Linked DNA regions of Homo sapiens: region 1 is linked to region 2. Evidence: fine-mapped expression QTL. A gene starts in region 2. The other region holds a variant in brackets. All regions are shown on one strand. Distances are from middle to middle.

Region 1 (4,383 bases), 100 kb before region 2:
TCATTTCTCTAGCCCTGCTTGTTTCCCAACCTTGGCGATGGGGATCGGGTGGGAGGTCAGCTCCAGATCCAGTGGCCCTGAGCTCAGAGAGCAGCGAAGTCAGGGTGCCCCGGGAGGAGATCAAAGCCTCGGCCCCCACTGCCCTCCGCTCTGCCTCTGCCAGCGACTAACTTACCTCTTTTTCCACCTGCCCAGCGAATCCAGCTGCCCGGCCTTCCCCTCCCATCCAAGAACCCCCGGCTCCTGCCTCTAGAATTTTCCACCAGCGCTGGGGGCTGGTAAAGATTCTGCCCCCCTCTGACAATTTAATAGTCCCAAGTCATCATCTGCGTGACACTGGCCATCCATCTTCTCCCAGGGGAGGACAAAGCGGGGCCTCCCGGACTCCAGGCCTCTCCCTCCCCAGCTCTTTCTATTTTGGGACAGCCTCACCACAATGGCGTCCTTATAAACCATAATGGCGATGTTTATGAAGGCCGCAATACCAGTGTATGAAGACAATTTTATGCCTAATTAGAAAATGATGTAACTCGAGAGAAGACAAAGGAAAGCTGTCCCCCTCCCGTTTCTCTCTCTTCAATCACACCCCCTCCCCACATTTCCTAGGGCCGGACCCCTTGTGAGTGCTTAAGGCTGAAGGACTCTGTTTTGACAGTAGCTGGGCTCCCCGCGCCCCGCTGGCCCTGGCCGCGCGACAGGAGGCTGCAGGCACGTCCTGCGGCTCCGGGGCGAAGGCTAGGGAAGGGGATAGAGGGAGGTCGCTGCGGGGAGGGGGACAGAGGCAGGCACAGAGTCCTAAAGAGATTTGAGACTCGCGCTCCTGCACTTTCTATCCCACGCGCCCCCATCCGAGGGGACCTCACCCCTGGGAAGACTCCAATAAATGCAACCCGGCGCCACTCGATTCCGGGATAATTTTTAATATATATGCAATAAATGTTCACTTTGTTAGATTGAATGACAGACAATAATATCGGCAAATCTTCATATCCATCCATTACCAGCAAATGAGCCGCACAAAGGACAGATTTGCTTTTGATTAATTTATTTGCAGACTCGGGTTGATAAAGCAATAACTATTTGGTTAAACTTGACATTTGGTCTTCAGGGGGTTATCAGACAAATCTCTGTCGCCCAGAAGAGATAATAAAGCTGTTTAAAGGGGATTAATTATTAATTGGCTGCAATTAATTTCCCCCCTTTTCTCGGCTGCTGCCACAATTCGCATCCCTCACCCACAAACAAAAGACAGAAGTTTGCCCTCCTCCCCACCCACTGACCTGGGGCGACGAGGGGATCCCCAAAGCCCTGAGTGAAGACGTGATCTCTTGCACCCCGGTTATTCCAGTGCAGACTATTTTAATGAACCCTTGGCAAAACCTGTCCATGTCTGTCCCCGGCAGCTTTTCTGGAGTCGAGGGTGCGATTAAGCATCAATCTGAGGGTCGTGGATTCGGAGCTGAATTTCTAGTCTCAATATTTTTGGTTGTAAGGACATCAGCTCACACCCGTTGTTATGTCTAAATCCACACTCCCCAACTTGTTTTCTTGGGGCAGCAGTTTGGGGGCTGAGCTGGAACCTGGGTGTGAGAGTATCACAAGCCCGCCCTACTGATCACGCGGAGAGGATTCCTTCTTCCCCTCTTTACTCCGCGCCCTGCCGCGGAAACCCTTCCCGTGGCCTCGAACTGGTCCCCGACGACTGCGGGGTACGCGGG[G/T]CCCAAAGCCAGACTCTACTCCCGCGCAGATGCGGGAAGACTCCAGGCTGTGCTTGAGCTGTTTTACTGGGCCTGGCCGAGGAATAAGCGAGCCTCAGCATGCTTGGGCCAGAGCGAGAAGCATCTTCATGACCCTGGGGTGCCCCTTCCTTTACTAATAACCTGTCAAGACTTTAAAGAACACATACTGAGACTAAAGCCCACCAAGCCTGCCTGGCCACAGCGCAGGCTGCCTCGGCCTCTCCGACATCCACCCGCTTCCAGGGACCTGTACGCTTTCCTTGGGTGCGAACTCGAGTCCAGGACCGGCAGGGTTCTCGCCTTAATCTGTACCACCGTCCCGTAAATCTGTCGCTCAGCCCATAGCCGGCCTTTGATCTCCAAGCGGAGCAGCTGGACAGGTGTCGAACTGCACTTCCCTTCCCGCTCTGAGCCACCGAACAAACTTGGCCATGCCCGGAAAGGATTCCCGTGCTCAGGGAACCTGGGGCACAGGAGAGGGTGGATAGGCGCGAATAAGCGGGCTCCAAAAAGTGGTGTGGCTTGGCAATCCTATTCGTTCTTGGCGGGCAGAAAATTCAGTGCGAATAATCTCCAAATACCCTGGTTGGAGAAAAGATAACTTGTAGAAAGAATGTGACGGGGATGGCCAGGTCAGATAACAAGCTCGGGTGTTAGTGAGCGTAATCTGACCGCAGAAAAGCTGATGGGAAACCTGGGCTTCGCGCCGCGTCCCGCTTTTCCTACTTTCCCATTCCATTCCCATCTCCCTTCCCTTTCCTTCCCTTCTCTACCTTATCCTCCATTCCCTTCCCTTCCCTTCCTAGGCATTTAAATAAGAACAAAGATTACACCCACAAAAAGAACCTTGCCTAGGAGCGCGTGGAAACAGCAAGGGCGCCCGAGCGGGAGAGGTTCCCTCGGTGAGGGGGTCCGCGCAGCGGCGGACCCCGCACCCCGGCCCCCAACGGCGCCTAGGAAGTTGTCACTCCTCTCATTTAAAGCCTCAGAAAAATGCATTCATGAGATTGTTTCTTTATTTTTCCTTTCTGCCCCTCTCCGCATTCTTTGCCTATTTGCTTTACGGCTTTTCAGCCTTGTTGAGGCCAAGAAAAGAAACCAGGTTCTTTTCTCTTGCGATTGGATCCGTATTCCCAGTTAGGGCGCCTTTTGATGTCCCCATTTAGCGCCTTTGACTGGTCAGCTGAATGGGGCCGCCTGCTTTTGTCCTTTCCCACAAGTCCCTTCAGAAAGATCCCTTTAAACGCCCGGTACCCGCTGATGGATCCGTTTTCAAACGGCGCGGGGACGGCAGTGCCGGAGGCCGCGTCTCCTTAGTAATCGCGCGGGCAGGGCTCGGCAAGGGGTCGCTGCAAGGGTCGCGCTCACCCGCCCCGGGTTTGGGCGCTGGGGGTGGGGAAGGGAGAGAAGGTTCGAACAGTTTTGTCTCTCCCGCGCCCCGGCTCCCCCAGGGTGCTGCGCCTCCAGCCGCCCCGAGGCGCTTCCCCCGGCGTCCGCGCGCTCCTCTCCGCAGGGGTCTCGCGCCCACGGTGCCGCAGCCGCGCGGCTCAGCCGCCCTCCGCACCCGCGCCTTTCCAGCGCCCGGGTTCCCAAACCATCGCTAAAGGCGGACGGGGGGCGCCAGGAGTAACGGCTGCTCCCCGGAGACCCCACCGAGCCCAGCGCCCGCCCCCGCCCCCTGGGCGCCCTGCCCCATTTTCTCCCTTTCCCAACTATCCCAGACCCCCAGAAGGGCCAGAATTTTCCAGAACTGTCCCACTCCACCCGCGCCCAGGGCTTCTGCACATTGCCCTTGGCAGGACGCGAGCCGGTCGAGGGGCATTTAGGGGTGGCCCTGCACGGCCCTCACTGCTGTCCCTTCTTCTCCCTCCGTTCTCCGGGCCAGGGTCCTCGGAGACCCCGTTCCGCGGCAAGTACCCCTCCCCCACCCCCGGAGGCGGGTGCAGTGCAGGGCGGGGGCGGCGGTCGCAGCGGCTCAGAAGCCGACCCTCCTTGAACCCGAAGCTGCCCTGGCCCGAGTATCCGCACTGGCCTGGGCCCGAGCGAGGCTGCAACCCTGTGAAACCCCCTGCAAGGCGGAAGCCTCCAAACCCAAACGACCCCGAGGGCGATTCCGCCAGAAATCCAACGCGGGCCCAAATAAAGTCCGAGGCCTTTTTGTCGGAAGCCCGGGAGGTGCCCGGCCAAGGTGTCCCCTGCCCGGCCAAGGTGGGGGCTCGAACCCTGAGCGGCCGCGCCGGCTACTTACGTTGAAGGTGCGCGCATTCCAGACGGCTCTGACCTGCCTCCGCCGGTCTCGATTATTTTATACATTTCTCGGCGATACACTTATAAACAAGTGGAAATTTTGCATCCTACTGCACCATTTTATACATGATGAGCCGTCAGTAATAGGATTATTAAACAAAAACCGTCTCAGGCGCTGGCGTTAACCTTTTTTAAAATGGCTAATTAGGTTTTGGACAGAAAAATTAGATTTAACATTGCTTACATTGCCTACATTTTCAGTTGATGCTCCGGTAATTTCGGATAGGCCGGGCTGCCGCCAAACAAAGAGATAATAAAAAATTAACTATTTTAACATATATTACAGATCTCCTATACCAAAATAAGGCAAAGAATATTTTCATGATCAAATATTATA
Region 2 (4,383 bases):
TATGTCCCATGTACTATATTATACACTAGACAGTAAGGATAGAAAGATGGATAAGAAACAATCCCTGTCTAAAGATGTCCACAGTATACTAGGGTAGACAAAGATGTGTAATCAGTTTGATTGAGAATCTCACCTCAAGAGGCATAAGCTTGAAAGTCTCATCATTTCTACACTTGGTATTTTGTCAGATTTCATTGCTTCAAAGTATCAGCCTCCTTAGTTATTAAAACTTTCATTCTAGGTATTAAGATTAGGTCCTACTGATTTAAAATATTAGTCTCATATTTATTTCAAAAACTTCCTCCATGCCTTCCAGAGCAGACTAGACCCGTAGTTCCAACTTTCTTTATACACACCCCTTTTTTTCCATGTGCCTGCTCTTCCGATGGTGGGGTCAGGAGGTTTAAGAAGGAAAACAGGCAATGCCTTAAATGTCTGACTGCCGCCATGTTGCTATCTGCTTTCTGTAGGTCATTGTTAGAATATATGGGGTTCCTAACAGCCCCACTGATAACTCAGTATCAAGCAGTCCTCTATGCTTTGATAGCCCTTTGCAAGACTTCTGCATCTGTCAGCTGACTTCCATTTGGCAGTGGTGAAACACATTCTTCTGATACATAGAAATCCCTTGTCCCATGTTATGTTCCATGGCAAGTGTGTGGGCCTCAATCTCCTGTGCTCTCTGTGATCCCAGCTCTGGGGCCTGTAGATTCCGACAGGATCCATAGTCCAGATATCACCGGATTTCTCTGTAGTCCCTACCAACTCTCCCCAGTCCTCCAAAATTCCTGGAAATTCATAGCGTAAGGGGAGTCAGCAAGCTTTGTGGCAAAGGAAACATCCAGATGGGGACTGGAGATATCAGCCTCCTCTTGAAGACACCCCAAAACTTTACTAGTATCATGTAATAGGTACTAATGTCCTGAACAGAACATGAAAGACACTAACCATTAATGAAACAAATGGACAATTTGGATAAATTCATAATTTATTTACTTATTTTTCTTTCTTTTTGAGACAGGGTCTTATTCTGTCTCCCAGCTGGGCTGGAGTGCAGTGGGGTGATCACTGCAGCCTCAACTTTCAGGGCTCAGGTGATTTTCCCTCCAAGACTCCTAGGCTCAAGTGATTTTCCCTCCCAGTCTCCTGAGTAGCTGGGTCTACAGGTGTGCACCATACCCCGCTAATTTTTGTATTTTATTTATTTATTTATTTTTTGAGACAGAGTCTTGCTCTGTTGCCCAGGCTAGAATGCAGTGGCGCGATCTCGGCTCACTGCAAGCTCCGCCTCCCGGGTTCACGCCATTCTCTTGCCTCAGCCTCCAGAGTAGCTGGGTCTACAGGCGCCCGCCACGATGCCCGGCTAATTTTTTTAATTGTTGGTAGAGACGGGGTTTCACCGTGTTAGCCGGGATGGTCTCAATCTCTTGACCTCGTGATCCGCCTGCCTGCGCCTCCCAAAGTGCTGGGATTACAGGCGTGAGCCACTGCGCCCGGCCTAATCTTTGTATTTTTTTAGAGACAAAGTTTCACCATGCCGCCCAGGCTGGTCTCTAACTGTATTTTAAAAATACAGGCGGCCGGGCGCAGTGGCTCACGCTTGTAATCCCGGAACTTTAGGAGGCTGAGGCGGGCCGATCATGAGGTCAGCAGATCGAGACCATCTGGCTAACACGGTGAAACCCTGTCTCTACTAAAAATACAAAAAAAATTAGCCAGGCGTGGTGGCGGGCGCCTGTAGTCCCAGCCACTTGGGAGGCTGAGGCAGGAGAATGGCGTGAACGTGGGAGGCAGAGCTTGCAGTGAACCGAGATCGCGCCACTGTACTCCAGCCTGGCCGACAGAGCGAGACTCCGTCTTAAAATAAAAAATAAAAAAATAAGAAATACAGGCAGGGCGCGTGGGCTCATGCTTGTAATCCCAGCACTTTGGGAGGCTGAGGCGGACAGGCTGCTTGAGCTCAAGAGTTCCAGACTAGCATCGGCAAAGCAGGGAGACCCCATCTTTACAAAAAAAGTAGCCTGGCATGGTGTTGTGAGCCCATAGTCCCAGCTAAGTAGGGCAGAGGTAGGAGAATCACTTGAGCCCAGGAGTTCCAGGCTGCAGTGAGCCGTGGTCGTGCCACTGGACTCCAGCCTGGGTGAAAGAGCAAGACCCTGTCTCAAAAAGAGAAAGGAAAAAATTTAACATCAAGAACTTCCTTTCATCAAGACACCACTGAGAGAATACGACAACCCACAGAGTAGGAAAAGAGATTTGTAATACACATCTGTAACAATGGACTTCCTCCTAGAATAGAGAGGATAAAAAGTAGCAACACTTCCGCTTGCACCCGGACGGAACTTCCTGTCACGGAAAAGAACATCCTGTCACGGAGAAGAACATCCTGCAGAATTTCCTGTCACGAGGAACATTCCGCAGGAGGAAATGGAGGCTGAAAGGCTGCGACTCCTCGAGGAAGAGGCCAAGCTGAAAAAGGTAGCCAGAATGGGATTTAATGCATCTTCCATGCTCCGAAAAAGCCAGCTAGGTTTCCTCAACGTCACCAGTTACTCCCGTTTAGCCAACGAGCTGCGTGTGAGCTGCATGGAGCGGAAAAAGGTCCAAATTCGGAGCTTGGATCCCTCCTCTTTGGCGAGCGACCGATTTAACTTCATTCTGGCGAGTACCAACAGCGACCAGCTCTTCGTAGTGAACCAGGTCGAAGTCGAAGGCTCCAAGTACGGCATCATCAGCCTGCGAACTCTGAAGATCCCTTCGTTCCACGTGTACGTGCTCAGAAACCTCTACGTCCCCAACCGGAAGGTGAAGTCCCTGTGCTGGGCCTCGCTGAACCAGTTGGACTCTCACGTTCTGCTGTGCTTCGAGGGAATCACAGATGCTCCAAGCTGTGCAGTGCTGCTCCCAGCGTCGCGGTTCTTAAGTGTTCACACAAGAGTTAACCAGCCTGGCATGCTCTGCAGTTTCCAGATCCCAGAGGCCTGGTCCTGTGCGTGGTCCCTCAACACCCGGGCATATCACTGCTTTAGTGCAGGCTTGTCTCAGCAGGTCCTGTTGACCAGCGTGGCGACGGGACACCAGCAGTCATTTGATACCAGCAGTGATGTCTTGGCCCAGCAGTTTGCTAGTACGGCTCCTTTGCTGTTTAATGGCTGTCGCTCCGGGGAGATCTTTGCCATTGATCTGCGTTGTAGAAATCGAGGCAAGGGGTGGAGGGCCACTCGCCTGTTCCATGACTCAGCAGTGACCTCTGTGCAAATCCTCCAAGAAGAGCAATGCCTGATGGCATCAGACATGACTGGAAAGATCAAGCTGTGGGATCTGAGGGCCACTAAATGTGTAAGGCAGTACGAAGGTCACGTGAATGAGTCCGCCTATCTGCCCCTGCATGTGCACGAGGAAGAGGGAATCGTGGTGGCAGTGGGCCAGGACTGCTACACGAGAATCTGGAGCCTCCATGATGCCCACCTGCTCAGAACCATCCCTTCCCCGTACTCTGCCTCCGAGGACGACATTCCCAGCGTGGCCTTCGCTTCTCGGCTCGGGGGCATCCGGGGAGCAGCACCAGGGCTGCTCATGGCTGTCCGGCAGGACCTTTATTGTTTCCCCTTCAGCTAATTCTGCAGGTGGCAGCGCGGCCGAATGTGGATTTGACTTAAGGAAGTTAAGAGTATCTTATTACCGTTTCTGTGAGAGCATTTTAAGAGACGTGTTGTATATAGATCGCATCCATCCGGCTGCCAGGGGTAAGGTGTTAAGAGTTTTATGTGGAGACGTTCTTGTAAAGTTATTTCAGTTAAACTGTGGACTTAACTTGAAAGTCCTTTTCATAAAAGGTACCTGTTTCCTCTTGTTGAATGCCTTAGAACAGTTAACCACCTCCCCAACCCTTTTTTTTTTTAAATAATTAAGACTTTTCTAAGGACTGAAGATTGGCAAAAACTAAAATAAATTAAAGCAGCTTCTTTCACTAGTAGCCCTTTAGAGAAGCATAATGATGGTACTGGTAAGACTGTTTGACTAATCATACAGGGTCCCAGGCATCTGCGCTTGAGGAAGCCAGTGGGAGTGGAGACAAGGGAGAGGTAATTTCTCAGAGTCTCTACAGAAATATTTAAGGCTGGAGTTTGGAATCATTAAATTTGGCCTTCTCAAACTCAATAGCAGATCTCTTAAGGTTCTCCTTTTATTGTTATCATCCATAGGCATTGGAAGGAAAGATGGATCTTTTTAAATACTAGAAGTTTTAAACAGTCCTTGATGTGCTTTTGTTGAGGTACCTTTCAGAATGTAAGGTACAGCAGCTCCGGTTTCTATTATGGTGACTTGAAGTTCAGATTCAAGGAATTGGCTTTGACTTTTTGTAATCTAGGAGCAGCAGTT

What was found. PIP is the estimated chance that this variant, and not a neighbour inherited with it, causes the effect.
Region 1: its variant is the best candidate, but not a certain one, in a credible set for the expression of DCAF4L1 in whole blood (INTERVAL, PIP 0.80).

Annotation. Positions count from the first base shown.
Region 1 is chr4:41,878,493-41,882,875 of GRCh38, forward strand. LINC00682 (long intergenic non-protein coding RNA 682) reads right to left here and starts at 4,119. Exons shown (of 2, transcript NR_104143.1): 1 at 3,988-4,119; 2 at 1,029-2,321. RefSeq lists enhancers at 1,317-2,069, 2,822-3,573 and a silencer at 4,377-4,383. The variant G/T (reference allele first, on the strand shown) is at 1,719.
Region 2 is chr4:41,979,366-41,983,748 of GRCh38, forward strand. It overlaps DCAF4L1 (DDB1 and CUL4 associated factor 4 like 1), which reads left to right and starts at 2,391. Exons shown (of 1, transcript NM_001029955.4): 1 at 2,391-4,383. The coding sequence starts at 2,428. The coding sequence ends at 3,618. RefSeq lists enhancers at 2,122-3,321, 2,881-3,653.